Linked DNA regions of Homo sapiens. The protein of the gene in region 2 purifies or fractionates together with the protein of the main gene of each other region. This does not show direct contact. Each region holds a gene or a part of one and is shown on either strand. Other genes may lie near its edges.

Region 1 (4,374 bases), on a different chromosome or scaffold from region 2:
ATCCTTGGAAGACCACCAAGGACTTTAGCTCATGCAGTGCAATTTCGCACCACTTTCAACAATAACAAAAATGCATGACTGAATGGCTCAAAAATGTGGAGTGTTAGAGGCATTCATTTGAGTCTAGGACACTGTCACAACACAGACAGACCCAAGTAAATACCTTTAGACGGCCAGTATAGAAACAGGCGTAATCTTTACCATCACCCTGGCCTCTCCAGATGCATACATTAGCCTTGTCTTCTCTGAGCTACACTCAGATAATTTTGGTCATTTTTTAAGGGGGATAGTCAATATAGTGACTTGTATTCAGCCTAGGTCTGGATGGATTAATTGCCAGGCACTTTGCCTGGGATGGGGAATGTGCTTTTTTCAGTGCAAAACACCCAGGATCATTTTCCAGGTGAAGTATCACAAAGTCTGGGTACCTAGCTCATTGAGCCCCAGGCTCAGCCCAAGTTTAATGTTTTATTCCAGATGGCCTTGCACTTGCCTTCTAGAGGTTTGAACAGGCTTTAAGAATACTCCATGTTCTGGAGGAGTCTCAGTCTTTATAGATCATAGTTAGGATCATCTGATGTGCTCTCAAGGGTGTCAGGGAGTACATCATGCTGACAGGGCTTCCAACTGAGGTCCTGCATTGCCTGTCTGCTTGACCCCTGTACTTTTCAAATAATGCTGAGTCCAGGTGCCATGATCAAAAGGGATCTTTAACACAAAGATTATGTTTTTGTTCAGCTTTCAATGGCCATGTACTTTTGGAGCGCCCACTATGTGCAGTATCCTCTGCTCAGCATTGTGGAGACAGCAAGAAAGGCAGGAGGGGCTTCTGCCACCAGGACCTTTCCTATTAGTAAGGAGATAAGCCACGCACACACAAAATTAGAATACAACACAGTGGTGATAAGTGCCATACAAGCGATACAGATGACGAGAAGGGAGTGCCCAGGCATTTCAAAGAGAGAAGGGATTTAGGACTCTAATACTATAGAATATTAACTGGGTAAAGCTAGTTCACTAGTAAAAATGAAAATACTAATGAAGATAAGTTTAAAAATCTAACCATTTTCATTATGCCTCCCTCCATAAAGACAAAGGTAAAGGGTATGCAACAATGGGCATTTTATTACTCATCTATGTTGAAATTGTTTTTAAGAGTGAGGCAGTGGGTTAGAAGCATTCATGAACTTGCCAAAGGTCCTCTTCACAATGACATTGAATGATACTCAGAACTTTGTGCCCTAGTTGCAGTTTTGGAGTTTTTATTTCTTGTTCCCTTCTGTGTTCATGAGCAATGCACCTATGATCATGTGCTCACACACACATACATATGTACATGCACAAAGGATTCCAGGACTCCTATAAGCTGTTATGACTACGTGGAAAAAAAGTACGTGTGTATGTGTGTTGGAGAGGTAGCAATACTTTCTAATAGTGAGTTGATTATATATGACACACAGCATGTGTCTTTAAGATTTGTATTCCGCCTTCCCCACCGTAAGTAATGTGTTGGATTTTGCAATGAATCTGTGATCTCCTGTTTTGTTGGAATCATCAATTTGGCTCTGTGTTTCACTTGGGGAGGGTCGAATTGAGCCACAGGGCCTATCACTGTAGAAATTGTCCCAAGTAGTTTACAGGAGGTATCTTCTGGACATGTTCAAAAAAGAATTTAGTTAAAGTTCTGGCTTATGCAGCTCAGTCTCTGGTTAGAACATATAAATATAAAATGTCTGATTCAGCATAATTACTGTTTTCCTTTTTTATTTGATTCACGTTGGGTTGCATGCAATTTCAGGATTAACTGGAGACTAGACTGAGGAATGAAAAAGGAAGTTTTTTGTTATGTGTACAAGGGAAACAACATTGGCGTTAATCTGAGGCAGTTGGAAGTGAGTCTCTCTGGCTCCCCAATGACATTAACTGTTTTAGCACTGAGGTTTTTTTCTTATTTATGTTTTTAAAAATGTATTTTGGCCTCATGATAAGAGTTCGTAGCTATTGAATGCTTTCTCTGGGCCTGGCCCTATACCAAGGAACTTACATGATTGTCTCATTTAAAACCCACAACAACCATATGACATCAGAATTATCATCTCCATTTTATAGACAAGAAAACAAATTCAAAGGGATTATGAAATATGTTCACAATCTTATAGCTAATGAATAACAGAGGTGGGATTTGAACCCAGGTCTTATCTGTTCTAGAGTATAGTTCATGCTATGTTGTACAGATAGTAAGACAAGAAAGTACCTTCTCTATTCCCATAGAGGTTGTTGAGATATAAAGTATGGGAGGACCCTCAGCTAACTAGTAACAGACCATCATCAAAACGGCACAATTTTCGTGTTATAGTGGAGAGGATCCAGTCACATCTTTTGTAGACAAAATGTCAAACCCAGACATAGACAATCTAGTGTTAATGGTAGAAGGAATATAAATTGTATTTCCTGGACAATACAATTGAGCCAATGAGGGTTTCTGAGGGAGGGGAATGTCGTCAGTCAAGCTGTTTTAGGAAGATAACTAGTGGCTCTTTGGGTTAAGGGTTGGCGAGGCAAGAGATAAAGACAGGGAGGTCTGTCAGCAGACTCTTTTTAAATAGTTCTTAACTGGTCTACCTGCCTCTTGTCTGTCCCCCCCTCCTAAATCCCTGTTCTATCCTGAACATCGCCAGCTTAATTTCCTTACATCACTGCTTTGATTAGAGTTATTCCTGTGCTTTGAGCTTCAGTGGCTCCAAGCATCTCAAATGATACTTCTTTCATTGAGTCACTTCTGAACTCTCCAGGGTTATGTGCCCACTTCTTCCTAATTCCCTGTTGGAACCAGTCCATGGTCTTTGTACATAACTGCCTTGTATTATAGTTAACTGTGTGTGCAGGTACGTGTTTGTCTTCTCAACTGGAAGCAACTTGAGGGCAAAGATGACAACTCCTCGTCTTGTCTGTGGGTAGCAGTACCAAGTGTGGTAGGTCAGTGCAATATTTGTTAAACAAGTGGGAGAATAACATAGCCAATTCTATTGTGTTCTCTGTCAGACACTAGTGCTACAATGAGATTATACTGCCTTGATGATAGATTGTCATTCCATGGTCTGTTGATCTCCTAGGAATCTTTTGGATCTAAACACTTTTTTTTTTTTTTTTTTTTTTTTTTTTTTTTTTTAAGGCAGGGTCTCACTGTTGCCCAGACTGGAGTGCAGTGGCGTGATCTTGCCTCATCGCAACCTCTGCCTCCCAGGCTCAAGCAATTCTCCTGCCTCAGCCTCCAGAGTAGCTGGGATTATAGGCATGAGCCACTACCGCCTGGCTAATTTTTTTTTTTTTTTTCCAAGATGAAGTTTCGCTCTGTTGCCCAGGCTGGATTGCAGTCGCGTGATCTCGGCTCACTGCAATCTCCACCTCCTGGGTTCAAAGGATTCTCTTGCCTCAGCCTCCCGAGTAGCTGGGATTATAGGCGTGTGCCACCATACCCGGCTAATTTTTGTATTTTTAGTAGAGACGTGGTTTCACCATGTTGGCCAGGCTGGTCTAGAACTCCTGACCTCAAATGATCCAGCCTCCCAAAGTGCTGGAATTACAGGCATGAACCACCATTCCAGGCCTGTATCTAAACACTTTGAAGTGAAATAAATTTAAAGTAAATATGCATATGTTGGTATAGCTTGGAGAACGTTTTTATTCTTTTGGGGGAGTACTTGTCTTTACCACTTCATTAATAACTGAATGCTTATAGGATTTTTTTTTATTTTTTGAAACAGAGTTTCGCTCTTGTTGCCCAGGCTGGAGTGCAATGGCACGATCTCAGCTCTCCGCAACCTCCGCCTCTGGTTCAAGCCATTCTCCTGCCTCAGCCTCCAGAGTAGCTGGGATTACAGGCATGCACCACCATGCCCGGCTAATTTTGTATTTTTAGTAGAGATGGAGTTTTTCCATGTTAGTCAGGCTGGTCTTGAACTCCTGACCTCAGGTGATCCACCTCGGCCTCCCAAAGTGCTGGGATTACAGGCATGAGCTACTGCACTGGCCAGGAATTTTTCAGAAAGATTCAGAATTGTTTTTCTTAATGCCTTGAGATACACTTCTTTAAAGAATGAACAGTTGAGACTGTTGTGATTAGGCAATTTAGAGCAAATTTACCACATGCAACTGTTCAGTGTGCATCAGTTACCTTTTAACATAAAAAAACTCAAGTTTATTGTCTTTACCAAGAAGAACACAAGCTTTGAAGGGTATCAGAATATTTTATATAAATAAACAGACATACTAAAATACAAACAGGTAAAAACTAGCATTTTCAAATCTACTTGGTTAAACATCTGTTGCTTACTATAGAGAACATGAAAGTGCAGAAAATGCATGAAGCGATTC
Region 2 (5,249 bases):
TTGTGTTTCAAATTCCTATTTTATAAGAAGGGAGTGGGATTCATGATCTGTTTCATGGGGGATGTGGAGAAGATTAATAATGGTTAATAAAATGCTAAGTTTCTCTTTGCAGGGAGATAGAGACCCTTGCCCAATGTTATTGGCAAAAGCAGAAGTCAGTAAATTAGGCTGGCTTTAACTCTTTATGGCCTGGATTTTTGTTTCTTGGTAAACTAAAGGTAGATATTTTTAGGAAGAAAAGCATTGCCTTTTAAAATAAAATATACATTCCTTTGAGACATTAATCACGATCATCAAGCTTCATAGGCAGAGCGGATAGTCTTTTGAGGGCAGCAATGACAAAACTGCATTAAATCAAAGCATGTGGGAATAGACCATAAATGAAGAATAACATGTACTCACATGTTCGATTATATGATTCATGACAAGTACGGGCAATTTCAGCCCCGAGTTCAAGGTAGTGTTGGGCCATGCCTTCGGGAGCTGCATCAGCCCCGAGTGCGAACATGCCCCCCGCGAAGCAGGTCAGGTGGCCCATCTTGTGCTCCAGGAGGCCCCCTTTCCACTCTGCGATATAAGTTAGTCCGCTGCTAGACTTGCGGATCAAATGAGTCTCGATAGCCTGTGAAAAACACTTATTTTTTAACATTTTGTAATCTCTTCTCAAATTTATACTAAAAATATGCCCAACATTAAAAAAAAAAGAATAGAATACACCTGACAATCAGAGTTTGGTGTTAAAAATCCATTCAACCTGAAATTACATGCTATTGCTTTCTGTATTCCTCCTCTAGTTTATGCCTTATTTGTTTGATTAGTCAGAATTAACACTGCTGCGCCAGCACATTTGGTTTTGCTTGGTTCTGTGACCAAACATTGTATTCCTCATATTCAAAAAACTTTCTCCTTCCCAAAGACAGGCCACTGTGCAGCAGTAATAGTTGGTTTGGTACATTTTCATTTCCATAAGTGGTGAAATAACACAGCCCAGGCCCTAAGGTGGATGAAGAACACAGCATATTTGTGCATGAGATCCAGGATGGTGGCAGAACTCTTCCTTTCACTTCTGTAGGCTTGGAGGGATAACAAAATAGAGTGGCAAAGAGGAGGTGTTCTGGGGCCAGAAGACTTGGCTTCAAATTCCAGCTCTGACACTATCTCTAATTTGTGGGAGTGAACAATTTGCTTACTATATCTCTAAATCTCAGCATCCTAATCCATAAATGGGAACAACAGGATCTCCTGATACGACTCTGCCACATTTTGTTTATAAAGCAGTCACTAATGCAAGTGGCACTTGATAAGAGTCATTTATAATTATCATTTACATCTCCAAAGTGGTGACGCTTGAATCAAGTTCCTCTCTAATACTTCTATTAAAAAGCACACTATTATATAATGAATAAATGTATATATTTTAAAAATCAGAAAAATCTTTAAATTTGGGAGAAATGATAATGTTTACAAAAATGATTTATAAAACATCTTTTATTTCTATCCCAGGTCTGTTGATATTCTCTTAAACTAGACAGGTAAGTAAAATATGCCTTATATTTTAAAAAGCAAAAATAAAGTGTGTTTGGCATTGCTAATCTCCAATTACTCTAACAGAAAATGTTCTCCCCACTGCCCCACAATTACTTCATGGAAGGAAAAAGGACATGACTGTGTCTATACCTGTACACTGCTATCAAGAGAGAGGGATTTGTTAGGAAGCACATTTGGGAATAATAGACACAGAAAAAAACTTGTGATAGAGAAGAATGAATGAAAATGAACACACAGGAAGCTAAAACCTTTCCTACCTTTATTAGAAATAAACGAATGAAACCAAGATGGTAAGAAATAAATGAACATATTACTGTGCTCATTAACCGTGGTTAAGCTAATGTTATTGATGGTTTAGTTATTACATTAATATTTCATTCTTATTTTATGCGACTGAACATCTTAGCTATTTATACTTCTCATAACACAAATTGCAATAAAGTCCTTCAAGCAGATACTTGTTCATCACCTAAGAAATTATTCTTTCTACATGGCAAGAGTAGTAGCTTTTGAGGATGAATTAGAGAAACATTATTACCCTGTTATGGATCCTAAATAAAGTATTTCTGGCATGATTCGGACCAAGTTGCTACCTCCTAATAAAAACTACAATGAAATTCCAAGACCTTCAAAGCAATAATTTTGTGTGGCCATGGGAAATATAAATAAATACAAAGAAGGATAGTCTTTAGTAGATCTGAAAAAACTGTGTCAAGGATACAGATAATTGATTAGAAAAAAGAGTACTATATATTTTGTGATTTAATCCTTGTATAATTGATTTAAAAAACTGGTTTGATGAAGCCTTCAGAATCGTAAGTGTCTGATATGTCTTCTGCCCAGGTATCATTTGCCATTGTGAGTTCCTAGTGTAGTCTCCAGATAGGGCCATGATAGCCAGTTGAAAGCTCAAAATATTTTGTTATTAAAATAATCAAATAAAACATATCACTCTGGGATTAAATGCTTCCCAAAATCTACTTGAAGCTACAACAGAGTAGCCATATCTTCAGTAATCAATTGTCCAGAACAATAGTGTACAGCATCCTCCCCTTGGTTACAATAATCTTCTAAAGTACAACTTAGCAGAAATAAACTTTGCTGTATAAGACAATGCTACTTCTCAAAACAGAAATTTAGTTGTTCTAGCTTTGCTTTCTAAGTTGAAAATATACAGTGGATTGAAAATTAGCTTTTACTACTAAGAGAAGCAGGAAACACTTTGACTTCATTTGTTCTTAATGGATTTTCCTGTCAATGATTTGTCTGAATACAATATACTAAAAGTTGTGTGGGTATGGTTTTAGGAATTAGGAAGAAAATATTTCAAATAATATTTTAAAGCTGTCTTTTTTTGAACATCAAGATCTTAGACGGCCAATTTAAGATTAGAATAATTAAAATGTCTGCCAGTATGGTAATTAGAGGATGACAGAATGGAAACTATAAAATATGGAGAACTCCCCAGGTTAAAATCTGAAACCTCACAGCAATGAGGAAAAATAAACCTAAAAGAGGCCATGTGGATCATATCCTAGTTTGCTTTTGATGTTAATCATGTGCCTTTATAAAGGCTGTGCCAAATGTAGGCCAACGTTCTCACTAAGGCGCTTCTGGTTCCTACATGTGAAGTAGTGAAGACTTGTAAAGGAAACCAATGTCATACTCAGTGTAGTTAACCAGAACAAAGCAAGCTGCATTTATATTTAAATAAAAAAGTACGCCTATGTCAAAATAACCCAGACCTCTTGTTAGAAAGACCAATTTTATAATGGCTACATCTTTGGGATTACAAATTTCCATTTTTTTCCTATGAATTAACACTTTATTAAAAAATTTCTAAGCTGTCAAGAAAAATAAAATTTTTCTGAGGACTGAGCCACTATTTTACAACACTACTTGAGAAGCCTTGATAATAATATTAAAAGAATATATGTATTACCACATAAAATACTTAATCGCAAAAGCACCTGATTCCACTAAAAAATTTTGTTCCTGAAGAGTACAAATATTTTAGATAAAGTAATTTTCTTTCTAACTTTATTTACTTTCTAACTTTATTTTCGGTTTTGATTGAGGCTTAACTGGAGGTGTTTCTTAGTTTACTTTTATACTAGCCTCCTCCTAGAGACTTTAAGTAGTTTCTAACTTACCTTACTAACTTACTGCTTGCAAATTAGTAAATGAAGATTTAAGTGTAGAATGGAAATTCTTACAAATAAATCCACAGTGGATGAGTTAAAAGGAACAGGTGCTGATATAGACAAACTTTAATCTTAATTTTGGTTCGACATGTAATCTCTCTGAGGTACAGCAACTTTATCTGTAAAACTGGGTAATAATCTCAAGTACTGTGAGAGAGAAAAAAACCCAACTCCACCGCTTCATTTAAAGGAGCTACCTAACACACAGCTTAGCACATGGTAGGCAATTCAACACTCAACTGTTGCCTCTTACTTCTCCACTGTAAAGAATCTTTGATACTATTAATGATCTTCCCTGAAATATGAGTTTGTTCAGATTTTTATGTGTGGATTTCCTTAGAGTACTGTCCATTTATCTCTGGGGACAAGTTTACTTCACATGGAGGTAGCCATTGGGACTGTCTGTCTTCTCAGGCAATTTTAACTTAGGCAATTGTCAGAATACAAATTCAGGATTTCCCCCTGCATAATTTAAATTGTGGTCCTAAGGAGAGAATTCATATTTATCAAAGAATACTACTTTTTCAGATATGTGACTCTTAACTGAGGTTTAAACCATGCAAAAACTTTAACGGCCCTATTAGAAATAAACATCAAATATGATTACCATTATTACGATGATATTAGCAGATATCGAACTCTACCTAATTGGAAATACTTTGTAACTCACTCATGTAGTATACCACTTATTCATTAAAACTTGATTAATATACAAATTATAAGTTAGGGCTGAGTGGCAAAGATGATTTAAATATTGGGTTACCTGAACAGCATCAAAATACATCTTCTTAGCTTCCAGATCTGTCTTGTCAGACATTAACCAGGCCTTCAGCAAATACTCATAGAAGCTGTCTCCAAGTCCTCCAACTGATACATGATCTGGAAAGAGAGGGAAATGAATTTTAGAGTGATTCAGCTTTTAATTCAGATAATGCAGCAAAATCACATTAGCAACTAGGATGCAACCCTATGTCAACTGCAAGTCACTGTTACATTTAAATTCCAACAAATCTCTTATTTTCAGAAAGATATTCTGAAATGAGCAGATGGGCTATTAACTAATGTAACATACTCTAAATAATTACCAGAGTAGTTTTGTAAACATGGAAGATAAAAGATATGTAATTACCCCTAATTCTAAAAATCTGGTTCTCTAGTGAAAAACACCCAACTAAAATGTTCACAGTATATATTTAAATACATTTTTATTTGCTTTAGTTCTGAATAATATAAAATTCTGGCAAAGCTATGAGTATTAGCAAATCTTTTTTAGAAGGTGGTTTGTAATAAATAAAACAAGAAGCTCCTCAGGTTCTTGCCATTATTATTATTTCTAAACTCACTCTGTCACCCAGGCTGGAGTGCAGAGGCACGATGATAGCTCACTATAACCTCGAACTCCCGAGCTCAAGTGATCCTCCTGCTTCAGCCTCCCAAGTGGCTGGGACTACAGGCACGCATCACCACGCCAGGCTCATTTTTAAATTTTTTGTAGAG

Evidence for each region. The genes of interacting proteins can lie anywhere in the genome.
Region 1: the proteins of MAN1A1 (region 2) and GPC4 purify together in Homo sapiens (affinity purification with mass spectrometry; one large-scale study listed by BioGRID and IntAct). This does not show direct contact.

The regions. Positions count from the first base shown.
Region 1 is NC_000023.11:133,408,116-133,412,489, reverse strand, and holds part of GPC4 (glypican-4 precursor), read left to right. Parts: intron 1-4,374. UniProt on the Homo sapiens protein: Cell surface proteoglycan that bears heparan sulfate. May be involved in the development of kidney tubules and of the central nervous system.
Region 2 is NC_000006.12:119,189,262-119,194,510, forward strand, and holds part of MAN1A1 (mannosyl-oligosaccharide 1,2-alpha-mannosidase IA), read right to left. Parts: intron 4,632-5,249; coding exon 4,516-4,631; intron 623-4,515; coding exon 403-622; intron 1-402. UniProt on the Homo sapiens protein: Involved in the maturation of Asn-linked oligosaccharides. Progressively trim alpha-1,2-linked mannose residues from Man(9)GlcNAc(2) to produce Man(5)GlcNAc(2).